7 linked regions of the Homo sapiens genome follow. The protein of the gene in region 1 purifies or fractionates together with the protein of each later gene. This does not show direct contact. Each region holds a gene or a part of one and is shown on either strand. Other genes may lie near its edges.

Region 1 (4,001 bases):
GAAGCTTACAGAACATAGGTGGCAGAGCTGGATATTGAACCCTCATTCTCCAGTTCTGACACAGGTGCATGTTTTCCTTTTAACAGGAGAGAAAAGTGAGGAGCAGTGATTACCGCCACAGAAATATCCTTTCATGGCGTGTCCTCCGGCATGGTCTACTCAGTGTGGTGGAGCCACTGCAGGTCCCTCCTCCAGGGATGTAGGAATGCCAGTGAAGGCCTTCCTGAGTTGGGAGAGAGGCAGAGGAGTGAGTGGAGGCAGGGCTGTAGCTTCTGTGCCCCGCCCCTACCCAGGCTCTCCAGGGAGGCAGGAAAGAGGCTGTGTTTAGACCTGAGGGAGCCAGCTGTGAGGCTGGAGCAGTTGCTGCATGGCGGGGCGGGGGCTCCACAGGGCTGTTCACCTGCTGCTCTGTGCAGAGACAGCCTCAAGTCCAGCTGCTGGGGTTGCATCACCTGCAGCTAAAACAGCCACAGGGCCCAGGCTGCCAAAAGGCAACAGAAGCAATCTAAGAAACCAGGCAAGGGAGCCTCCCCCATCTCCCTGTTGCCTTTTGGGAGCATAGAGCTTCCCTCTGAAGGTAACACCCTTTGCATTTTTCTCTCTTGACTCTGTTCATCAACTTCCACTCCCAAATACTTGTGCCCTTCCTTCTCCACAGATATACACAATCCCTGGGCACTCTCCACCTAGGTCAGCTGGCTCTAGTAAGGCAGCAGTCAAGGGAGTTTCTGGGCTGGGACCCCCTCTGGGGTGCAGGCTGGGGTGCCCTGCTGGTATGTGCCCCAACAGGTTTTTCCCTATCAGCCTTGAAATCAGCCTGCAGCCTGTCTGACCTGCCCCCCAGGGAGCTGGAGCCAGAGGCAGAGCCAGGTCAGAAGCTGGGGCAGAGCCAGGTCAGAAGCTGGACTTTGAGACTAGGTCTCTGTGGTCCCACCTGGACCCACAGGGAAGGCAGTGCATAAAAGCCTCCTGTGTTTGAGGCTGAGCCGCTGAGAGGCTGAGTGGAGTTCACTCACATGGATTGAGGCCCAGTTCCTGGGAGAAGAGATGCTGGGCAGGAAGGTGTCTGCATGTGGGACTCTGTACAGCCCGGTCCTCTCCCACGTCTGGGAGGGGCCAGAGTCAGACAACTGCTGGGTTCGTCCCTAAGAGAGGTCATCTGACTGGCTGTTCAGCCTAGGCTGCACACACCCCCACTTTCCTCTACCAGGCCACACCGGAGGCAGTGCTCACACAGGCAAGCTACCAGGCCACAACAACGACACCCACCTCACCTCTGGCACCTCTGAGTAAGTACTGGGCCCACGGCCCCATGCCAGGAGGGCTTGTTGATTGCTTGGGGGAGGGAAAAATGAGTTTTCCTTTTCCAACATGAGAGTGCCTCCTTTCTGTCCAGGCATCCACGTACTTGCAAGAACTCTTGCTCACATCAGCTAAGAGATTGCACCTGCTGACCTAGAGATTCCGGCCTGTGCTCCTGTGCTGCTGAGCAGGTAGGCAGCTGTACAGGCAGGAATTGAGGGTTGCTTGTCAGCTGGGGCTGCCGGTGGGGGAAGATGCTATTTCGAGTTGTCTTCCACTCTGCGTGGTTAATCCTGCCACCTCACCTCAGCTCCCCTGCACTGCCCAGGAGACCCCAGCCAGGCCCAGGAAGGAGGGCCATAGACCTCAGAAGGGAGGCATCTACCGCGGACCAAGGCCTGAGGAGCTTTGGTGCTGACCCTGGCATCAGGGAGGGTTGGCGCCTGGTCCAGGAGCATTCCGCATCAATCCCCACTTCCTAAAGGAGTGGGGAGAGGTGGGGAAGGTGGGGGCTCCCCTCTTACCTCACCATTTCAGCTCCATTTCTGGCTCCAAGCCTAAGCAGGTTGATCTTTTTTTCTGCAGCAAGGAAAGGAACAGGTGACTGGAACCCAGGGTCCAGGGTCTCGGGGGGGTCATAAGGAGTCCCTGAAGGGCCAGGAAATTCAGCTCTGTGGGCTCCTGTTTCCTTCCCCAGGGCAACCAGTAGCACCATGTCTGTGACTGGCGGGAAGATGGCACCGTCCCTCACCCAGGAGATCCTCAGCCACCTGGGCCTGGCCAGCAAGGTAGGGGCTGTTGGGATTTTAGAGATCACTTTTAGTATCTCAGCTCGGGCTGTGAGAGGATGGGAGGCAGGAAAGTGGAGGACAGGCCCTGAGGTTATGCTGAGGAGGTGTAGGCAGCCTGGCCCTGGCCCTTGCCAACTACCCTGTGCTCCCACAGACTGCAGCGTGGGGGACCCTGGGCACCCTCAGGACCTTCTTGAACTTCAGCGTGGACAAGGATGCGCAGAGGCTACTGAGGGCCATTACTGGCCAAGGTGAGCCCCTTTCCCCCGGCACTTGAGACTGCCTTTTAGAGCCAATCTGTAGACCAAGGAGGAGCCAGGAAGGAGGAACTAGTGATGTTGGAGAAATGTTTGTGGAATGCCTTCATTCTTGTATGTCAGGCGCCACAGTAGGTGTGTCAAACCCATTCTCACAACACCCCTGTGAGGCAAGGCTTATTATTTCCATTTTCCAGATGAGGAAACTGGGGCTCAGGGAGATTAAGAGGCTTGCCCAAGGTCACTCAGCTCATGACGGAGGTGGTATTCTCATCTAGGTCAGCCGATCCCCCCAAGTCGTATTTTTTTTTAACCACCACACCAGGCCACCTTTGCCTTGGTCTGGGTCAGATTTGCATGCTGTTTTGACATTTTATTTGCAACTTCTTTTGAGATAAAATGGAAGTGGGGGTGATATAGCCCCTGCTCCTTTCCTTCCCAGCCCTCTCCTGGAGCGCCTTCCCTCCTCCAAGGAGTAGGAACATCCCACTATGTAAAGACCCTGCTCACAGCACAGCCCTCATCTCGGTTCAGGCGTGGACCGCAGTGCCATTGTGGACGTGCTGACCAACCGGAGCAGAGAGCAAAGGCAGCTCATCTCACGAAACTTCCAGGAGCGCACCCAACAGGTGAGGCCATGCTGACCTCCCACAGCAGTGGACTGGGGTGAGAAACCCCCTGGAGGACTCGAGAGACAGCAACAGCCGCTGAGGCCAGCCCCTGCTTCCTGGCTAAACAGGGCCTGAGATGAAAACCAGCCAAATCTTCCCAAACCTCCCCACACTTCTGGGGCCCTTCCCCTCACCCCCGTCCCTCTGCTGTGAGGACCATTTATTGTAGGACCTGATGAAGTCTCTACAGGCAGCACTTTCCGGCAACCTGGAGAGGATTGTGATGGCTCTGCTGCAGCCCACAGCCCAGTTTGACGCCCAGGAATTGAGGACAGCTCTGAAGGTAGCAGGAGGGGAGACTTGCTGGGGTGTCTGGGGAAGGGAGAAGGCTGTCAGCCTTGCTTTTGCAAGACGAGAGTCCCCCTCTCGTCGTCCCATATTGTTTCTTAGAAGGAGAAGCAGCCAGCGTCTGCCCCTCTGTCTGCCATCCTAATGACACGGCCAGTCTGAGAGTAGACTCCCAATTTCTTGTAGGCCTCAGATTCTGCTGTGGACGTGGCCATTGAAATTCTTGCCACTCGAACCCCACCCCAGCTGCAGGAGTGCCTGGCAGTCTACAAACACAGTAAGAATATAGAGGGAGGGGTCCCAGATGCTGGAGAAGGGGCTGTAGGACAGGCCACTCCTCTCCTGTACTCCCCATAGGTGAGCTATCTGGCAACCTGGCTGCCTAAGTTCTATTCCCTTGGGGTCTTTCCTCTTGCCCCCACCAGTGCCTCAGTCTCTCAGGGGAGAGACCCAGATGTGATCATTAAAAAAAGAGAAGCAGGCCAGGTACGGTGACTCATGCCTGTCACCCCAACACTTTGGGAGGCTGAGGTGGGCAGGTCACTTGAGCCCAGGAGTTCAAGACCAGTCACAGGCAATAAAGGAAAACCTCATCTGTGCTAAAAATTCAAAAAAACCAGCTGGTCATGGTGGTGTGCGCCTGTGGTCCCAGCTACTCAGGAGTTTGAGGTGGGAGGATCACCCCAGCTTGG
Region 2 (3,500 bases), about 50 Mb from region 1:
AATGATGGGGGCACTAGATGGCTTTGGAATCTAGAGGCATGGGGCTTCTTCTGGAGGAGTTTGTTCTGGAAAAAAAAAAAGACACATTCTTCAATATCCCAGTCTGCCCATTGGCATGTTGTCCATAGCAGTCCTACCACACACTAGGCCCTGTGATAAGTGCTTTCTCTGTATCATCTTCCAAATAGCCTAGTGAAATGGACAATTGTAGTCTCATTTTACATTTGAGATAGCTGAGGCCCAGAGAAGTGAGGCCAGTCAAGTTCATGCAGCCAGGAAATGACAGATTCAAACTCAGGTCCCAGAGGTGGCCCTGGAAGACTTCCCAGGCTGATAGTGTGGTGGTGCCTGCGCTCATCTTTCCCGATGCAGCCCAGGTGCCTCTGCTCTCTTATTAGCTAGGGTAGGTGGTAGGCCAGGAGCCTGTCGGGCCGGGCAGAGGCTCAGGCCCATGCCTCTCCTTGGTCCCCAGTCTGTGGAAAACTGCATGTGTGTTCTGCACAACCTCTCCTACCGCCTGGACGCCGAGGTGCCCACCCGCTACCGCCAGCTGGAGTATAACGCCCGCAACGCCTACACCGAGAAGTCCTCCACTGGCTGCTTCAGCAACAAGAGCGACAAGATGATGGTGAGCACAGCATCAGCAGGGCGGGGCCTGCCCCATCAAGCACCCCCCCAGGAGCCACTGCCTCATCTGCCCTTTCCTCTGGGCCCTCCTGGAGCCTGAAGCCAGCCCTAAGGGACAGGCCCATGCTGACACCTTGGCCTGGGGCTCAGGGTGCACTCTGGGAGCTGGGTAGAGGCCATTCATCTTGCACAAGGGGGAATCTGTTCTTGGAACTGTAGGGGCTCAGACCACCTTAGAGGTCAAAAACTCCAGCCTTCTGTTTGCAGGCCTTGGTCTTTCTTCCTGTATAGTGGGTCAAGTCTCCCCCATCTTCTCCCTTGCCCTTGAGGATCTGAGGAAAGCCAGAACTCTCACTCTTTCTGGCCTTGGTTCCCACCATCTCCTGAGCCCTGCCAGGTTTCCCCAGAAGCAGAAGCCTACCAGGGATGGGTTGTCAGGTCTCCTTCACTGGGCCCAGCTGTGGAATCCAGGTCTCAGACCACCCTCTTTGGCCCAGGGTGGGTCAAACCTACTGTCTGAGTCTGGAAGAGGAGGAAGCATCATGATGGGAGAGTCCAAAGCAGCCCCACATATCTGGAAGGTTTGGGCCAAGGCTGCCCTGGAACACAGCTCCCAAGATGCCAGGATGCTCTCTTCTCCCACATCCTGGGACAGTCTGGGGGACCATGGCCCATTCCTGCATCCCATGGAGCTGCTGCAGTGCATAGAGGAAAGGGGTGCAGCGGGGCTGTCCTGGGCCCCCTGCCTCTGCAGGCGCTTCCTCAGCTTGCCCTATCTGGAACCACGACCCTGAGGCTGGGGGGATGGGGACAGAATGCCTGGGTTGTGTCCTCTCACAAGGCTCCCCATTGACCCCCCTGACCGGCTCTTTATCCTCAGAACAACAACTATGACTGCCCCCTGCCTGAGGAAGAGACCAACCCCAAGGGCAGCGGCTGGTTGTACCATTCAGATGCCATCCGCACCTACCTGAACCTCATGGGCAAGAGCAAGAAAGATGCTACCCTGGAGGCCTGTGCTGGTGCCCTGCAGAACCTGACAGCCAGCAAGGGGCTGGTGAGTGGGACTGTACCTTCTCTACTGCAGCAGCCCCATCCTCCAGCCACCGTCCAGCCTCTGCTCCCTCCTTTTCCCCCCAGCCTGTCCCCTGACTTCGGAGCCTCCCATGAGCAGAGTGTGCCTGGCATATGCTGGGCTCTGGGCTGGGCAATGGGGAAACACTCCTGCCCTTTAGGAGCTGCTGGGGGATGCAGAGAGGGTGGGCCCACTGATGCTGGATTCTGTCCATGCACACACAATCCCCTTGGCCACATGGCTCCCGGTCCCCAGCTGGCCTCCTGGGCTCTGCTTGAGGTCGGGGAATGCGGCGGAGAAGGTGTTTGGCAAAAGGAGTTTCCCATTTGTTGAACTGACAAAGGTGGAAAAAGAGGGTTTGGGGTCCAAGCAGGTCCAGAGAAGATGTGACAGAATCCGTGCAGATGTTGAGGCCAAATGTATGTAGCTTGGAGGGCACAGTGGTATGGGGCAGAGCCAGAGGAAACCTGTTGCAATCAAGAAGAGTTGAGATGGGCCAGGCGGCCAACTGTTCTTCAGCTTTACTTAGGAAAAGGGAACCGAGCAGCAGCAGCACTAGAGTAGACCGAGGGCAGAGAACTTCCCTGGCTGTGAGGAGAGAGGCTGGGCAGTTCTGAGAATGCCAAACCCACCTAGACCTGTTACACCCAGGATAGCTATGTTGCTTAGAGGCCTGGGCGAACTGGCCTACCTCTAGGGGACCCCAGTTCTCTCTCCATGTGGGCCCAGACCCTTTCTTAGCCCTCTTTTCTCAGGCAAGCCCTCAACAAATATGTGTTGGATTCTAAAGAGGTAGGAAAGTTGGAAGAAGATGGCCAGATGTTTAATTGACAAATACCCTTGACCATATAGTTTCACATGGGCAGATAGCGTGGGGAGATGTAATGGGGGCAGCGCTGAGACAGTGGGGTGAGAGAGCAGCATTGGACGCTTGGGTTACTCTGGAAGCTAACTCTGGGTCACTATGAGTAGGGGAAATGAGACTTCCCTCTCTCCACCCATCTGGGCTGCAGGCTGATCCAGGAGACAGGATCAGGGCTGGGAAAGGGGAGGTGCATGTTAGCCTAGGTTTCTGTAGTTGCCCACATGTGAGCTAGTGCTTCCAATATGAAAGAGAAAGGGTTCTGGGATGTCTGCCTTTGGGGCTCCTTGCCCCTTTCTGCCTGCCATGGTGCCTGGGAAGCCACAGGCTAGCTCATCATCTACTCCTTCTCTCTTAGATGTCCAGTGGCATGAGCCAGTTGATTGGGCTGAAGGAAAAGGGCCTGCCACAAATTGCCCGCCTCCTGCAATCTGGCAACTCTGATGTGGTGCGGTCCGGAGCCTCCCTCCTGAGCAACATGTCCCGCCACCCTCTGCTGCACAGAGTGATGGGTAAGGTCCCTCTCTCTCCTCCCCCTCTAGCTAAGACATGGCAGGCTCCCTACAATTCAAGCCTGCTTGAAGGTCATCCTTTAAGCCATTCCCTGGGATGAGCATTCCAAGAAAGGAAGCTGGCCAAAGACAGGTATGGAGACAGGAGAAGGGAGCCTGTCACCTGAGGGCTGGGAGCAGATCTGCAAAAGTCCTATCTGGGTCTCTGAGCCCTGAGTTGGAGCTGCCAGGAAGCCCTGAGGGCCACCTGGCTCAGAGCCCGGCAGAAGGCTATCGAAGAGTGTGGCCCCAGAGGGAACCCCTCAGCCCTTCCTTCCCCAGTCATCCTGACCCTGTGCCCCAACTCGTTCCTCTCCCAGGGAACCAGGTGTTCCCGGAGGTGACCAGGCTCCTCACCAGCCACACTGGCAATACCAGCAACTCC
Region 3 (3,500 bases), on another chromosome or scaffold:
AGTCAGCTTTATGCCTACGAAAAGTAAGCAATGTGTTTCCATTTTATTTATTCAACATAAACAGTAGTGTTGCAAAGAGAAACACAACTTGGTAATGGACTTAAGTAGTTGGTTAATTATTGTTGTTAGGAACTTAAAGCCATATCCCAGAGTTTTATTTTAAGTCTAGAAATGAATAGAAGCTCTATGAAGGCAGAAACCATGTCTGTCTTCTTTACCTGTATATTCACAGAGCCAAGACTAGCACCCAACACCTAGTTGCTTCTAAGTAAATATTGTAGAATATATGAATAACTACAGAGTGCTTTTGGAGAATATCTGGTTGCCAATTGAAAGCTCTACGATTCAGGTCAATGAAATTGGTTAAGCCATATTTCATGTATTTTTCTGACATAATTGGCAACAGTAGGGAAAAAATTCCCTGTAAGTGGGGAAAACTCTAATATTTCCCCAATAACTCTTTCTACTTTAGGATTGTCATTTTTTTTTGCTATTCTAGATTAATTTACAGTTAATCATATAAATCAATAAAGTTCAATAAAAATATATATTTTTCTTTGATGAACCATTTCCAGCCATGCTTTCAGTTGGCAAACTCTTTTCTTATTATATTAAGCATCTCCTATTGCTTAATAGCGCATAATATTGAAAAATCTTTTGAAGAGACAAATGACTTCAGATATCTAAAGATATTGACAGATACTCTACGTTCCTTTTCAATTTCCTTTCAGAATGTACATTTCATTCAACTTTTCAATTAAAAATTTTAATATAAATATTTCCCTAACGAAAAATATGGCTGGTGGATGTAGACAGGGCTTCTTTTGTAACTTCCAAGAACAAGGCATCTTGGTTTACAAGATTGGTTCTACAGGCCTCAAGACCCATAGGATTCACAATATGAGTTATGTGCTATTCGTTAGACAGTATCAAGGGATGCAATACATTTTCTGCACATTTTTTGACGCATTATTTAAAATCAGAAAGAATTTTAAAAAGGCTTATCTAAAGTGCCTAGCCATATTCACCCTCAAAATGGTATAATCAAATAATGGCATTGACCTTAGAATATCTGAGTATTTGTTGACTATTAATATATATGGTACATTATATATTTTTGGTGGATGTATTGATGATTACAAGGTGCAAGGTCTCCACATAGAATACTGACCATAAAGCACTTACTGTTGGGTGTAATGTATGTTACTGTATCGTGTTACTCTGTGTCGAGATGTCATGGGGGATGTGGAGCCAACGGTTTGGCCTATGGGAAGGTCTGGACTCATCATTTGCATCACTTGAATTTCTGGCCCTACTAAAATATTGCCGCTCATCACAGGTCCCATACAACCCTCAGTCGTGCTACTATTGCTCATGTCAGGCACACCAGGACTAGCCAGTACTCTCTCAGCATAGATTACATTGTTGTAATCTGCTAACTCAGCAGGTACACAAATATTCCCTTGAATATCATAGACAGGTGCCATTACTGCTTCGGTTACTACAACATTGGGTGCAAGCTGAGGATCAAAAATAATTGTAGTGGGTTGCACACATGGATCAGCATTACCGTAAGTCTCAGTCACAATAATATCCCCATGGACCACGGGTTCAGATGCTGCCATTTCTTCTTGGAATTCAACTTCTGAGGGAGTCAATCCTGAAGATTCATTAACAAAGTAATTAGGTCCGAGCAAAGGGAGGTCAGTACTGATTGGTATACAAGCCTGGTGTGAAGGAAATGGTTCAATTTCTGTGTTTAAGCAGATCTCAGCAAGAGTCCTAAATTTTGGATCTAAAGTTTCCATGCAGCTTTCATCTAAGTCATCCACAATCCAACTGCAACAACCAATAGAGCCTACGGGAGACCCGACTCCCTCGTGGTCATAAATGAGCAAGCAGTCATTGGCTGGTCGACCTTCATCTTCATCTGCATAAGCATACGCTTTCTAAAATTAAAAGGAAATACAGAATTAGAAATTTCTTTTTCCCTAAAATAAGGAAGAATAACAGCAATCCCTCAGAGAGACTTCTGAGTTAAGTTGTTACGGAATAAACTGAATAATGGTATCAATCACTCATTAAAATAATTGATACTATCCATGCACATTCTGTGATAGCATTTGTAACTACCAATTTTAAGATATAGTTTACAATTGCAACAACATCTTCAGCATTTGTTTGGTAAAGAATCATGGTGAAATTCATGTATGAACAGATGGAGAATAAAGCAGGCCGACTGAAATATGAGATAAAATTCTAGTTCTATTTTAGTTCTTTTAAAATGTGTAATAAATTATTGTTAACTATAGCAATCCTGTTGTGCTACCAAATACTAGATCTTCTTCATTCTAACAGTATTTTTGCACCTATTAACCATCCCACTGTTTCCCCTCCCTACTACCCTTGTCAGCCTCTAGTAACCATCATTCTACTCTCTATCTCCATGAGTTCGGTTTTTCCTTTTAGCTTCCACAGATGAGTGAGAACATGTCAAATTAGTCTTTCTGTGCCTGGCATATTTCACTTAACAGTGTCCTCCAGTTCCATCCATGTTGTTGCAAAATGACAAAATTTCATTTTTTATGGCTGAATAATATTCCATTGGGTATATGAATCACATTTTAGAAGTCCAATCATCAGTTGATGGACACAGGTTGATTCCATGTATTGGCTACGTGACTAGTGCTGCAATAAACATGGGGGTGCATATATTTCTTTGATATACTGATTTCCTTTCTTTTGGATATATACCCAGCAGTGCTATTGCTGGACCCCTTTTCGTAGTGAAGGTCAGTTGGTGGATAAGTCACTGGACTGAGAATAGGAGAGCTATCTTCTAGGTCTTAATCTAGCACGAGTTGTGGTGATGCTGCGTTCCTGAGTTTTAACTCCTTTCGTTCCCAATTCTTTTTATTTTCTCTTTTCTGTTGGAGGCTCCGGGAGAACATGAAGGACATCAAAAACAGAGGTCATAAATGCACCTTTTTTCCCCTTGATGAGCATTTTCCTGCTTTGCTACTGCTGTGGGAAACAAGGTGAGGAATCAAGGAAACAAAAGATAGAAAAATGGAAAAGGGAAGTGGAGAATGATGAGGGGTGTGGCCTTGTTCACGGTACTAAGATGCGCTATGGCAGTTGAATATGAAATCCTGTGGCAAATTAGCATTTTGTGTTTTAAGGAGACGTGAAATACTTTTTATTCAGGTTTGGGATAGGGTTGAGAATAACAGCATATTTCCGAAGAGGCCTACTACCATTGTGAGTATTTTACTATTATTATTATTCAATCTCAAGACGATTTTATGTGTGACTGTGAGGGCATTACCTCCGAGAAGTAGCTGTCCAAGAAAGCCATGTTGATGTCTGCGTCAGCGTAGTCCCGCAGGGTTCCCATGGTAGAGCTCCTCTTCCTTGCGGCCCCTGAGGCTCCTGCGGCCCCTGCGGCCATGAGGCCAACGGCTGTCCCCATACCTGTGTTGAGCTCCACTCCCGATACA
Region 4 (3,500 bases), on another chromosome or scaffold:
AGCATTTCGTTTTTGTCTTCTTAATGTGTATATCCAGATGTCTTTTAAAAAGTTCTGAGATAATATTACTTATAATGCTTTATATTCTGGTTTAATTGTTACAGTGTATGCATTTTTCTATCTAAAACATTTTTCATGTCTTCATAGTTTATTCCATTGTGGTATGTCTTGTGGATATGCCATAACATATTTGGTAATTCCCTTATTGGACATTTGAGGGATTTTTCCTATGTTTTCCTATTGTACTCAATTTGATCTGCACTTCCTGAGGATGTGTTCCAGAGTTGGTATTTCTGGGTCAAAAACGCATTTTATGTCATATGGCCAAATTGCTTTCCAGAAAGTGTACACTCCCACTGAGAAGGTCTGAACAGTTTTTGTTTTTTGTTTTTTGTTTTTCCAGATAGAGTCTCGCTCTTGTTGCCCAGGCTGGAGTGCAGTGGTGTGATCTTGGCACACTGCAACCTCCACCTCTCGGGTTCAAGCAATTCTCCTGCCTCAGCTTCCCAAGTAGCTGGGATTACAGGTGTTTGCCACCTCGCCCAGCTAATACTGAGCAGATTTCATATATAAAGTTGGACTTTGGTTAAGCACTTTGTCCTCTGGTATTTTTTAGGACAAACATAGTTTTGTTGATGAAGTAGAACGGTATTTTAAAATTATCCTATTAGATACTGCTCTGTTTGTGTTTAATATATTTTAAGAAGTTCCTTTTTATATTTCAGCAACTGCCAAGACTGATAACTATAGAGAACATAATTCTTTCTGAGACAAGTTCTTGCTCTGTTGCCCATGCTGGAGTGTAGTGGCATGATCATGGCTTATTGCAGCCTCCACCTCCTGGGCCCTGGCTCAAGAGATCCCCCCACCATAGCCTCCCAAGTAGTAGGGACCACAGGCGTATGTCACTACGCCTGGCTAATTTTTTTAAACAAGATTTTTGCTGCTGGGTGTGGTGGCTCACGCTTGTAATCTCAGCATTTAGGGAGGCAGAGACAGGAGGATTACTTGAAGCCAGGAGTTGAAGACCAGCCTGGGCAACATAGTGAGGCCACATTCTCCACATTCTCTCTCTCTCTTTTTTGTTTTTCAGACAGAGTCTTGCTCTATCACCCAGGCTGTAGTATAGTGGCATGATCTTGGCTCACTGCAACCTCTGCCTCCTGGGTTCAAGTGATTCTCCTGCCTCAGCCTCCCAAGTAGGTGGGACTACAGGCACGTGCCACCACACACAGCTAGTTTTTGTATTTTTAGTAGAGACAGGGTTTCACCATGTTGGCAAGGCTGACCTCGAACTCCTGACCTCAGGTGATCTGCCTGCCTTGGCCTCCCAAAGTACTGGGATTACAGGCGTGAGCCACTGCACCTGACCAAGGTCATATTCTCTTAAAAAAAAATATATATTTTTTTTTTGTAGAGACTTCATCTCACTGTGTTGCTCAGCCTGGTCCCGGAACTCCTGGGCTCAAGAGATTCTCCTGCCTCAGCCTCCCAAAGTGCTGAGATTACAGGCAGGAGCCACCACGCCTGCCCCTGAGAACATAGTTCTTTTTTGTTGAGCTTCCCAGGCAAGCCATGTAAATATAAATACAGCTCATCCCCTTTACTTATCATGCTGCTATTTTGTTTTAGAAGTATTGGTAGATTGCATATTCCATAACCCTGATATATTTCAGTATAATCCTTACCTAATCTTGGACCTATTATAGTGGGATGCTGCTTGCTTGCTTGTGTGTGTGTGTGTTTTTTTTTTTGGCGGGGGGATGGAATCTTGCTTTGTTGTCCAGGCTGAAGGGCAGTGGCATGATCTCGGTTGACTGTAACCTCTGCCTCCTGGGTTCAGATGATTCTCCTGCCTCAGCCTCTCCCCAGTAGCTGGGATTACAGGCTTGCGCCACTACGCCTGGCTATTTTTTGTATTTTTAGTAGAGATGGGGTTTCGCTACGTTGGCCAGGCGAGTCTTGAACTTCTGACGTCAAGTGATCCGCCCGCCTCGGCCCAGGCATGAGCCACCACGCCCAGCCTATGAACCTATATTCTTACTTCAGTATGCAAAATGTAGCATAATGTTAAGAATGAGGTTGCTTAAAATCTAGGCTACACACATAGTTAGGCCTGCCTTTTCTTCGCTCTTTTCTTTTTTTTCTTTTTCTTTTTTTGTTTTTGAGATGGAGTCTCACTCTGTCATCCATGCTGGGAGTGCAGTGGCACGGGGATTCAAGTGATTCTCCTGCCTCAGCCTCCCGAATAGCTAGGACTACAGGCACCCGCCACCACGCCCAGCTAATTTTTGTATTTTTAGTAGAGACGAGGTTTCACCATGTGGGCCAGGCTGGTGTCAAACTCCTGTGATCTGTCCGCCTTAGCCTCCCAAAGTACTGGGATTACAGGTGTGAGCCACCGTGCCCGGCCACCATTTTCTTGAAAGCTCATTTTGTCCGGAGAATGTTTTAATGCCAATACATGGACTTCATCATTTGTAAATAGTTCTTATCAGAGGAAAATCTAGGAAAAGAAAGGAAACCTACATTTCTCTCCTTCATAATTTAGCTATTTCGTTTCTAGCTTTTGGCAATCTTATTTCAATAAAAAAATTAAAAAATTTTTTTTTTTTTTGAGACAGAGTCTCACTCTGTCACCCAGGCTGGAGTGCAGTGGCGCGATCTCGGCTCACTGCAACCTCCGCCTCCCGAGTTCAAGCGATTCTCCTGCCTCAGCCTCCTGAGTAGCTAGGGTTACAGGCGCACGCCACCATGGCCAGATAATTTTTGTATTTTTAGTAGAGACAGGGTTTCACGATGTTGGCCACACTGGTCTTGAACTCCTGACCTCAAGTGATCCACCCACCTCGGCCTCCCAAAGTGCTGGGATTACAGGTGTGAGCCACTGCACCCAGCCTACCCGTTTCTTAAAAATATTAAATTGACGTTACAGGTTTTCATTAACCCTTATATGAATATTTTGGTTACTGCCATTATTTTCTACTCTTAAGTGACTGAAATGTTTAACTTTGGTTTTTGTCTTTTTTTCAGAGTTCCGGTAATTTCAGAAATGAAATGATTTGACTAGTTTTATCCTTTGAATTTTTCTGTCATTCTTTCCTTTTTTTGAGACAGGGTCTCACCCTGTCACCCAAACTGGAGTAAAGTGGCATAATCATGGCTCACTGCTGCCTCAACCTCTTGGGTTCAAGCAGTCCTCTGCCTCAGCTTCCTGAGTAGCTGGGGCTACAGGCATGTGCCGTCATGCCCAGCTAATTAAAAAAATTTGTTTTTTTGTAGAGGTGGAATCTTGCTGTATTGCTCAGGCTGATCTTGAACTACTGGGCTCAAGCTGTCCTCCTTCCTTGGCCTCCCAGTGTTGGGAGTACAGGCATGAGCCTGTACTGTGCCTAAGTCCTCCCATCCTTTCTGTAGTAGGTATTGCCCTAAGTTAGGATTGATCATATTCCCTATGATCATCATTATTATTTTTTTTTTTGAGGCAGAGTCTCACTCTG
Region 5 (2,824 bases), on another chromosome or scaffold:
CCACCTAGCAACTGAAGGGGAAGATCCTGCTGAAGGGGAAGAAGCTCGGGGGGCTCCTGCCCCCTGGAGGGGAGGGTGGCCCTGAGGCCACTGTGGTGTCAGACGAAGACGAGGCTGCTGAGATGGAGGATGAGGCAGTGAGGAGCCGTGTGCAGCACAAGCCCAAGGTTTGAGGGGGAGCTGTGGGGTGGGGCAGCCCGGGCCTTCCCCATCCCCTCACCCGTGGGAGGTCTGCCTTGTCTCAGTTCTCTGTGGCTGCCACTCAGACCCTCTGCCCCGCTCTCTCTGTCTGTCTCCCTCTGTCTCTCTGCGCCTGGGTTTCTGGCTTTCTCAGTGCCTACCCTACCCCAACCACTGAATCTAACCCGGGCCTCCCCGTGTTCCCCAGGAGGACAAGCTCAGGCTAGCACAGGAGCTCTCTGACATGGTCATTTACTGCAAGAGTGTCCACTTTGGGGGCTTCTCCAGTCCTGGCACCCCTGGACAGGCCTTCTACGAGATGGCGTCCTTCTCTGAGAACCGTGCCCTTCGACTGCTCCAAGAATCAGGTGAGGCCTGGCTCCCCACCACTCCCCTGCTCTGTTACAGAGAGAATTGGCAGGGCAGGGCTTGGGCCTCACCAGGAGGCCTCCACTGCTGACCGAACCACACCTCCCCTCAGGAAACGGCTTTGTCCGCCACAACGTGGGGCACCTGAGCAGAATCTACCCGGCTGGATGGAGAACAGACTCCTCCAACTACAGCCCCGTGGAGATGTGGAATGGGGGCTGCCAGATCGGTATGGGCTGGCTGGGGCTGGAGGAGGCCTGGAGGAGGGTTTCAGTCCCAAGGCCGGGGGCCTGGAGCCTCGAAGGCCATGCAGTGGAGCTCTGAGGACCCAAGCAGGGTCAAATGCAGGGGCTTGTGGAGCTGGTAATATCAGTCTGGAAATATCTGCCCACCAGCATGTCACAGTGTCTGAAACCTCATTAGCACACTAGTCCTTTGAATTCTCACACCAGGAATGGAAGGTGTGGTTAGCATGGTGGGTCACTGAGGGTGGCAGGAGGGCAGCAGGCATTGGAGTGATGCTGGGCCCTGCTAACTCACCATGTGACCCTAGGCCTTAGTGTACCCTGAGCAGGCTGTGCTCTAGGGCCCCAGGGCCAGCCCACAGCCTGTGACTGCTCTGTCCTGCCTGTAGTGGCCCTGAATTTCCAGACACCTGGGCCAGAGATGGACGTGTACCAGGGCCGCTTCCAGGACAACGGGGCCTGTGGGTACGTGCTGAAGCCCGCCTTCCTGCGAGACCCCAACGGCACCTTTAACCCCCGCGCCCTGGCTCAGGGGCCCTGGTGGGCACGGAAGCGGCTCAACATCAGGGTACGCTGGACCTAGGAGGGACAGGTGCCCACGGACCTCCCTTCCCCGCTACCACTCCTGAACTGTCCATTGTCCTCTGCCTTTCCTCAGGTCATTTCGGGGCAGCAGCTGCCAAAAGTCAACAAGAATAAGAATTCAATTGTGGACCCCAAAGTGACAGTGGAGATCCATGGCGTGAGCCGGGACGTGGCCAGCCGCCAGACTGCTGTCATCACCAACAATGGTAGGTGCTGGGCCTGGGCTGGGCTACTAGGGCTGGTGTCCATGCTGCTGATATGGTGCCTGTCCCCCTAGGTTTCAACCCATGGTGGGACACGGAGTTTGCGTTTGAGGTAGTTGTGCCTGACCTTGCCCTCATCCGCTTCTTGGTGGAAGATTATGATGCCTCCTCCAAGAATGACTTCATTGGCCAGAGTACCATCCCCTTGAACAGCCTCAAGCAAGGTGAGTGTCAAGAGAAGGGGATGGCCAAGGTGGTGGGAAGCAGGGCCTGGCGTCTCTTGGGCTGGGGCTGGCTGTCCCTTGACGCATCCACCCCCCCTCCGCCGCCGAATGACCAGAACTCTCTCTGTGTTCCCTCCTGCCTGTCCACCCACCAGGATACCGCCATGTCCACCTCATGTCTAAGAACGGGGACCAGCATCCATCAGCCACCCTCTTTGTGAAGATCTCCCTCCAGGACTAGGCTGGAGGAAGCCAGTGGGGTCCCCCCTGAGTGGGCTGGGCCCTCTGTCCACATGTGGGGACAGGGCTGGTGTGGCTGCTCCCAGCCTCTTGCTCAGAGCTAGGCCCCCAAATTGCCTTCAGCCCTAACATAGTGTCTGCTGCTGCCTCCCTGGGGACCAGGAGCTAGCCCAGTCCCTGGAGCTGTCCTTCATTCCGTTAGGAATAACACTGCAGCCCTCTCCACCCTCCGGCCAGCGAGTGGTCAAGGATTTTTATAAAAATCACGATAAGATTAAGCCTTGTGGTCTCTTTACCTGGATGCCAGAAAAATCCCCTGTGAAGCGTGTGTGTGTGTGTGTGTGTGTGTGTGTGTGTGTGTGTGTGTGTGTGTCCCCATGTCCTAGAGTGCTGGAGCCCTAGCACCTCACTCTCCACCTTCCTTGCACATAGTTGAGTAGGGCAGGGGTATCTGGAGAGACCAACGAGAAATAAACCCCTCTGTGGGGTGGCACTGAGAGCTCACACCCGCCAGCCCTGGAGGCCCCTTCCCCTGAGAGGTGGACCTGCTGAGTGGCCCGGGCTTGAAAGCACGCATACCACAGCTCGTATGGGCTGCCTGCTTTTACTGACACGCAGAGGATGACCAAAAGCCTCTGAGGGGAGTGGAAGCAGGGCCTCCCCAGCATTGTAGGTATGTTGGGGTCCAGGGGATAGGGGCAGTCGAGAGGGCTTGGGTTCAGAAGAAGCCCAGCTGCTTTTTCTCCTGCCGCTGCCTCCACGTGGCCATGCTGTAGAA
Region 6 (3,500 bases), on another chromosome or scaffold:
AGACCAGCCTGGCCAACATGGCAAAACCTGTCTCTACTAAAAATACAAAAATTAGCTGGTCATGGTGGTGGGCACCTGTAATCTCAGCTACTGGGGAGGCTGAGGCACAAGAATCTTTTGAACCCAGGAGACAGAGGTTGCAGTGAGCTGAGATTGTGCCACTGCACTTCAGCCTGGGTGTGACAGAGCGAGACTCCATCTCAAAAGAAAAAAAAGAGAGAGAGACTGGAAAAAGAGACCTAATCAAGTAAAGGAAAAAATTTAATTAAAAAAATCTAGACTATGGAAGATAATTAATATGTACAAGTTTTATTGATCAATTTATTTAAATTTACTAAAATAATTTAGAATTAATTGTGCTGCCTAAGTCATCAGGCATTTCAGCAACAATTGCTTTTAACTCAGTTCGAACTTAAGAAGGGATATTGTGACTTTTTAAAGCCCTGAATCAAGTTCTTTTCTGAACTTGGTCAACTCCCAGCTGCCATTTAGATGGTTTTAAAGTATTCGGTCCTGGATTTACGCCATAAACTTAATAAGATTCTGCTCCAGCAACATGTAGTAAAAACTGTTTTTCTCTTGGCTTTTTAAAGTAAACAAACAAACAAACAAAACAGTTCTCATAAATTCCTTTTAATCAATTCCTTTTCTTTCCATCTTACTACATGCTTTTGTCACTTCATTAAGTAGATACTATGTGCCAGTTTTTCTGCTAGGTCCTGATAACTGTTAAGATGAACAAGACAGGGTTTCTAGTTCCAAGGAGCACAGAATCTGGTGAAGACAGCAGATATGCCAGTGAAGGATTATGACAGAAGGTGACTGAGCCTCCTGTAAATATGAGCAGCACTCTGTTTTCTCCTGACCTCATATTGCGTTCCCACAGCAGCTCCGAGGCTGTTCTCAGTGTATGCTGATCTTCACTTTTATTGAGTGTTTTCTCTGGAAAAAGGCCAATAAAAACATTTCATTTCTCTTTTGGACAATATATATTTCTAAGAGCCAGGTTTTTCTGCACCAAAACCTTACAACCAATGGTCTGCACTGGTTTTCCAGCCATGCTTAAGCCCGTATTACCAACATTTCTGGTCCCAGTCGCCTCTGCAGGGGAGTCTCTTCCACTAGCGTGTTTCTGTTTCCAGCCCTCAATGGATACCTCTTCGGAAACTTCCCGGAGCCTGATATGTGTGTTGGAGAATCTGTGTCCTGGCACCTATTTGGAATGGGGAATGAAATAGACATCCATTCTATCTATTTCTATGGTAACACCTTCATCAGCAGAGGGCATCGGACTGATGTCGTCAACCTGTTCCCAGCCACCTTCCTTACAACAGAAATGATAGCCGAGAATCCTGGGAAGTGGATGATAACCTGCCAGGTCAGCGACCACCTACAAGGTAAAAAGGATAAAGACCAGAGTTGATATGTTTAGAATGGTACAATCAAACCACACAGTCACTAGTGCTCATCCAGTACCTACTGTTAGATAGAGCCTTGTATGTACTATATTTAATTAGGTAATAAATATACAGGAAAATATAACGCTCATCTCTTTGATATTCTATCAACAGATATTTATTGACCACTTCTGTATGAAAAAAGTGGGGAAGTGATTAAAAATTGATGAGACCTTCGAGGAACCTGTAGTATAGTTGTTAGACATAGTTAGACATTCACAAAATGAATACGATTTAAGGCAGAATGAGATAAATGCTCTTTGGGTGTTGCAGTCACTACTCTGGAGCAATCAGAGGGGCTTCCTGAGGAGCTGGCTCCTAACATGAGCCTTGAAATATGAGTAGGAACTGAATAGATGAAGAAGGAAAGAAAGACTTTTGAGGAAGCAGCATGAACTGGGAAAAACACATGTTCTTTTTGAGCAACTGTAAGTAGAGTAATAAGGTTTTAGCACTGGAAAGGACTTTCTGGATAATAAGGACCAATCCCCCCTCGAATTATTTAATTTCGTTTTGAACATCTCTTGTGAGTAGTTATAGCAGCTCATCTCATCTCTGGACTGCTCTATTGGAATGTTCTTCCTCAAATTGAGACAAAATCCATTGACCTATAGCTTCCTTCATGTCCTATGATAGGTGCATGATAAACATTTGTTGGCTTAAATGCCTGTTGAATGACCTGGTCCTGGTTTCTTCAGACATCATACACTATGTCCTTTCTTAGCTGGACCATAATGTTCCTTACAGAGAAGTGATGACAGAAGAGCCTGGGAGGCTCATCAGGCCCCTTAGCAAAGCTAAGGAGGTGGGGCTGTGTGATCCTTAGCTCTTTTGGCACACTAGTGACATAATCGGTGCAGTTATTTAAGAAGATAAATGTATGCATGCAAGAAGGACTTGATGGAGGAATTCTGACCACTGGATGCTAGTTAAGAAGCATTTGACAGTGTTAGAGGTCTAACACCTAAACGTCTGCCCTAAGATGATGAAACCAAGACAGAAAAAATATGTTAATGGAATAGACACAGAAGAAATAATGTCTGATATTTGGATACTAACTTCCCATAGTCACTAATAGGTGCAAAGATCCAGCTGCTCAGGGCTGCTTTTGTAACACATTCTTGTTCCTGTCCACCTTCCACAGTGAGTCATAGCATTAGTCAACTGCAGTATCCCAATTACATTCAACTGAAAAATTAATCAGTTAATATGTACTAGATGCTCTTCTGGGAAAACAAAGATTAACAAGAGAAGGTTTCTATTCTCAAAGAGTCTTATGCTGTTAAATCTGGGAAGAAACTGTAGATTTAAAATCAAGATATTAGCTGCCATTTGAGACTAGTAAGATCGCTAAATTAGCCCGATAGTTGTGGACATAAGCTAGTATTTATACGTTCCCTGAAATACAGTATTTCTAAATTGTCCATGCCTTCAGAAAAAAGTTATTGTAAAAAAATTAGAAAATACATATAATTGGAGGTTTTTTAACAAATAGAGACAGGGTCTTGCTATGTTGCCCAGGCTGGTCTCAAACTCCTGGGCCCAAGCAATCCTCCCACCTTAGCCTTTCAAAGTGCTGGGATTATAGGCATGAGCCACTGGATCTGGCCCCTATAAATTGGTTTTAAAATCAGTAGTTCCATAATAGAAATATTTTATATTCACATTTTGGTGAATATCTTCCCTATTTTCTATTTCTTAATATGTAAATATATATGTATTTTAAAAAATGAAATCAGTCTATTAATGCTGCACTGTAGCTAATTTTTCTCATTTACAAATATATCAGAAACACATTTTCATGTCGGTGAATATAGAGCTTACTTCATCATGGTTAATACTTCCAGTGTCCATTATAAGGAGATTACATCTTGCTTAATCAATACTCTATTGCTTAATGCTTATGTTTCCCACCAATTTTTTTGCTATTATAAACAGCACTGATGACTATTATTTATAGATGTTTGCACTTTTGTCTGAACATTTTCTTAGAAAAACTCCTAGATTTAGAATTTCTGGGTCAAAGAGTATGATTTTTTTAAA
Region 7 (3,500 bases), on another chromosome or scaffold:
ATACTGTGCTTTTCCGACGGGCTTAAAGAACGGTGCACCAGGAGATTATATCCTGCACCTGGCTCGGAGGGCCCTACGCCCATGGAGTCTCGCTGATTGCTAGCACAGCAGTCTGAGATCAAACTGCAAGGCGGCAGCGAGGCTGTGGGAGGGGCGCCCACCATTGCCCAGGCTTGCTTAGGTAAACAAAGCAGCCGGGAAGCTCGAACTGGGTGGAGCCCACCACAGCTCAAGGAGGCCTGCCTGCCTCTGTAGGCTCCACCTCTGGGGGCAGGGCACAGACAAACAAAAAGACATCAGTAACCTCTGCAGACTTAAATGTCCCTGTCTGACAGCTTTGAAGAGAGCAGTGGTTCTCCCAGCACGCAGCTGGAGATCTGAGAATGGGCAGACTGCCTCCTCAAGTGGGTCCCTGACCCCTGACCCCCTAGCAGCCTAACTGGGAGGCACCCCCAAGTAGGGGCAGACTGACACCTCACATGGCCGGGTACTCCTCTGAGACAAAACTTCCAGAGGAATGATCGACAGCAGCATTCGCGGTTCACGAAAATCCACTGTTCTGCAGCCACCGCTGCTGATACCCAGGCAAACAGGGTCTGGAGTGGACCTCTAGCAAACTCCAATAGACCTGCAGCTGAGGGTCCTGTCTGTTAGAAGGAAAACTAACAAACAGAAAGGACATCCATACCAAAAACCCATCTGTACATCACCATCGTCAAAGACCAAAAGTAGATAAAACCGCAAAGATGGGGAAAAAACAGAGCAGGAAAACTGGAAACTCTAAAAAGCAGAGCGCCTCTCTTCCTCCAAAGGAACGCAGTTCCTCACCAGCAACAAAACAAAGCTGGATGGAGAATGACTTTGACAAGTTGAGAGAAGAAGGCTTCAGATGATCCAACTACTCCGAGCTACAGGAGGAAATTCAAACCAAAGGCAAAGAAGTTAAAAACTTTGAAAAGAATTTAGATGAATGTATAACTAGAATAACCAATACAGAGAAGTGCTTAAAGGAGCTGATGGAGCTTGCTGTATTCAGGAAACCCATCTCACATGCAGAGACACACATAGGCTCAAAATGAAAGGATGGAGGAAGATCTACCAAGCCAATGGAAAACAAAAAAAGGCAGGGGTTGCAATCCTAGTCTCTGATAAAACAGACTTTAAACCAACAAAGATCAAAAGAGACAAAGAAGGCCATTACATAATGGTAAAGGGATCAATTCAACAAGAAGAGCTAACTATCCTAAATATATATGCACCCAATACAGGAGCACCCAGATTCATAAAGCAAGTCCTGAGTGACCTACAAAGAGACTTAGACTCCCACACAATAATAATGGGAGATTTTAACACCCCACTGCCAACATTAGGCAGATCAACGAGACAGAAAGTTAACAAGGATACCCAGGAATTGAACTCAGCTCTGCACCAAGCGGACCTAATAGACATCTACAGAACTCTCCACCCTAAATCAACAGAATATACATTTTTTTCAGCACCACACCACACCTATTCCAAAATTGACCACATAGTTGGAAGTAAAGCTCTCCTCAGCAAATGTAAAAGAACAGAAATTATAACAAACTGTCTCTCAGACCACAGTGCAATCAAACTAGAACTCAGGATTAAGAAACTCACTCAAAACCGCTCAACTACATGGAAACTGAACAACCTGCTCCTGAATGACTACTGGGTACCTAACAAAATGAAGGCAGAAATAAAGATGTTCTTTGAAACCAATGAGAACAAAGACACAACATACCAGAATCTCTGGGACACATTCAAAGCAGTGTGTAGAGGGAAATTTATAGCACTAAATGCCCACAAGAGAAAGCAGGAAAGATCCGAAATTGACACCCTAACATCACAATTAAAAGAACTAGAAAAGCAAGAGCAAACACATTCAAAAGCTAGCAGAAGGCAAGAAATAACTAAAATCAGAGCAGAACTGAAGGAAAAAGAGACACAATAAACCCTTCAAAAAGTTAATGAATCCAGGAGCTGGTTTTTTGAAAGGATCAACAAAATTGATAGACTGCTAGCAAGACTAATAAAGAAGAAAAGAGAGAAGAATCAAATAGAAGCAATAAAGAATGATAAAGGGGATATCACCACTGATCCCACAGAAATACAAACTACCATCAGAGAATACTACAAACACCTCTATGCAAATAAACTAGAAAATCTAGAAGAAATGGATAAATTCTTCGACACATACACCCTCCCAAGACTAAACCAGGAAGAAGTTGAATCTCTGAATAGACCAATAACAGGCTCCGAAATTGTGGCAATAATCAATAGCTTACCAACCAAAAAGAGTCCAGGACCAGATGGATTCACAGCCGAATTCTACCAGAGGTACAAGGAGGAACTGGTACCATTCCTTCTGAAGCTATTCCAATCAACAGAAAAAGAGGGAATCCTCCCTAACTCATTTTATGAGGCCAGCATTATCCTTATACCAAAGCCGGGCAGAGACACAACCAAAAGAGAGAATTTTAGACCAATATCCTTGATGAACATTGATGCAAAAATCCTCAATAAAATACTGGCAAACTGAATCCAGCAGCACATCAAAAAGCTTATCCACCATGATCAAGTGGGCTTCATCCCTGGGATGCAAGGCTGGTTCAATATACGCAAATCAATAAATGTAATCCAGCATATAAACAGAACCAAAGACAAAAACCACATGATTATCTCAATAGATGCAGAAAAGGCCTTTGACAAAATTCAACAACGCTTCATGCTAAAAACTCTCAATAAATTAGGTATTGATGGGATGTATCTCAAAATAATAAGAGCTATCTATGACAAACCCACAGCCAATATCATACTGAATGGGCAAAAACTGGAAGCATTCCCTTTGAAAACTGGCACAAGACAGGGATGCCCTCTCTCACCACTCCTATTCAACATAGTGTTGAAAGTTCTGGCTAGGGCAATTAGGCAGGAGAAGGAAATAAAGGGTATTCAATTAGGAAAAGAGGAAGTCAAATTGTCCCTGTTTGCAGATGACATGATTGTATATCTAGAAAACCCCATTGTCTCAGCCTAAAATCTCCTTAAGCTGATAAGCAACTTCAGCAAAGTCTCAGGACACAAAATCAATGTACAAAAATCACAAGCATTCTTATACACCAATAACAAACAGAGAGCCAAATCATGAGTGAACTCCCATTCACAATTGCTTCAAAGAGAATAAAATACCTAGGAATCCAACTTACAAGGGACGTGAATGACCTCTTCAAGGAGAACTACAAACCACTGCTCAATGAAATAAAAGAGGACACAAACAAATGGAAGAACATTCCACGCTCATGGATAGGAAGAATCAGTATCGTGAAAATGGCCATACTGCCCAAGGTAATTTATAGATTCAATGCCATCCCCATCAAGCTACCAATGACTTTCTTCACAGAATTGGAAAAAACTACTTTAAAGTTCATATGGAACCAAAAAAGAGCCCGCATCGCCAAGTCAATCCTAAGCCAAAAGAA

Evidence for each region.
Region 2: the proteins of ANXA9 (region 1) and PKP1 purify together in Homo sapiens (affinity purification with mass spectrometry; one large-scale study listed by BioGRID and IntAct). This does not show direct contact.
Region 3: the proteins of ANXA9 (region 1) and DSG4 purify together in Homo sapiens (affinity purification with mass spectrometry; one large-scale study listed by BioGRID and IntAct). This does not show direct contact.
Region 4: the proteins of ANXA9 (region 1) and ARL8B purify together in Homo sapiens (affinity purification with mass spectrometry; one large-scale study listed by BioGRID and IntAct). This does not show direct contact.
Region 5: the proteins of ANXA9 (region 1) and PLCD1 purify together in Homo sapiens (affinity purification with mass spectrometry; one large-scale study listed by BioGRID and IntAct). This does not show direct contact.
Region 6: the proteins of ANXA9 (region 1) and HEPHL1 purify together in Homo sapiens (affinity purification with mass spectrometry; one large-scale study listed by BioGRID and IntAct). This does not show direct contact.
Region 7: the proteins of ANXA9 (region 1) and TRIM69 purify together in Homo sapiens (affinity purification with mass spectrometry; 2 studies listed by BioGRID and IntAct, with this or other methods). This does not show direct contact.

Annotation. Positions count from the first base shown.
Region 1 is NC_000001.11:150,981,091-150,985,091, forward strand, and holds the start of ANXA9 (annexin A9), read left to right. Parts: upstream 1-1,201; 5' UTR 1,202-1,289; intron 1,290-1,396; 5' UTR 1,397-1,493; intron 1,494-1,999; 5' UTR 2,000-2,015; coding exon 2,016-2,090; intron 2,091-2,247; coding exon 2,248-2,344; intron 2,345-2,884; coding exon 2,885-2,979; intron 2,980-3,190; coding exon 3,191-3,304; intron 3,305-3,495; coding exon 3,496-3,586; intron 3,587-4,001. UniProt on the Homo sapiens protein: Low affinity receptor for acetylcholine known to be targeted by disease-causing pemphigus vulgaris antibodies in keratinocytes.
Region 2 is NC_000001.11:201,321,506-201,325,005, forward strand, and holds part of PKP1 (plakophilin-1), read left to right. Parts: intron 1-472; coding exon 473-628; intron 629-1,507; coding exon 1,508-1,684; intron 1,685-2,922; coding exon 2,923-3,076; intron 3,077-3,435; coding exon 3,436-3,500. UniProt on the Homo sapiens protein: A component of desmosome cell-cell junctions which are required for positive regulation of cellular adhesion.
Region 3 is NC_000018.10:31,411,277-31,414,776, reverse strand, and holds part of DSG4 (desmoglein-4 isoform 2 preproprotein), read right to left. Parts: coding exon 3,329-3,500; intron 1,950-3,328; coding exon 1,182-1,949; 3' UTR 1-1,181.
Region 4 is NC_000003.12:5,128,792-5,132,291, forward strand, and holds part of ARL8B (ADP-ribosylation factor-like protein 8B), read left to right. Parts: exon of another isoform or gene 1-24; intron 25-3,500. UniProt on the Homo sapiens protein: Small GTPase which cycles between active GTP-bound and inactive GDP-bound states.
Region 5 is NC_000003.12:38,006,996-38,009,819, reverse strand, and holds the end of PLCD1 (1-phosphatidylinositol 4,5-bisphosphate phosphodiesterase delta-1), read left to right. Parts: intron 1-8; coding exon 9-167; intron 168-388; coding exon 389-548; intron 549-661; coding exon 662-778; intron 779-1,183; coding exon 1,184-1,362; intron 1,363-1,452; coding exon 1,453-1,585; intron 1,586-1,656; coding exon 1,657-1,806; intron 1,807-1,961; coding exon 1,962-2,047; 3' UTR 2,048-2,324; downstream 2,325-2,824. Other genes in the region: VILL (villin-like protein), read right to left, coding at 2,765-2,824. UniProt on the Homo sapiens protein: The production of the second messenger molecules diacylglycerol (DAG) and inositol 1,4,5-trisphosphate (IP3) is mediated by activated phosphatidylinositol-specific phospholipase C enzymes. Essential for trophoblast and placental development.
Region 6 is NC_000011.10:94,066,354-94,069,853, forward strand, and holds part of HEPHL1 (ferroxidase HEPHL1 precursor), read left to right. Parts: intron 1-617; exon of another isoform or gene 618-942; intron 943-1,081; exon of another isoform or gene 1,082-1,142; coding exon 1,143-1,397; intron 1,398-3,500. UniProt on the Homo sapiens protein: Is a copper-binding glycoprotein with ferroxidase activity. It oxidizes Fe(2+) to Fe(3+) without releasing radical oxygen species. May be involved in the regulation of intracellular iron content.
Region 7 is NC_000015.10:44,739,528-44,743,027, forward strand, and holds part of TRIM69 (E3 ubiquitin-protein ligase TRIM69), read left to right. Parts: intron 1-3,500.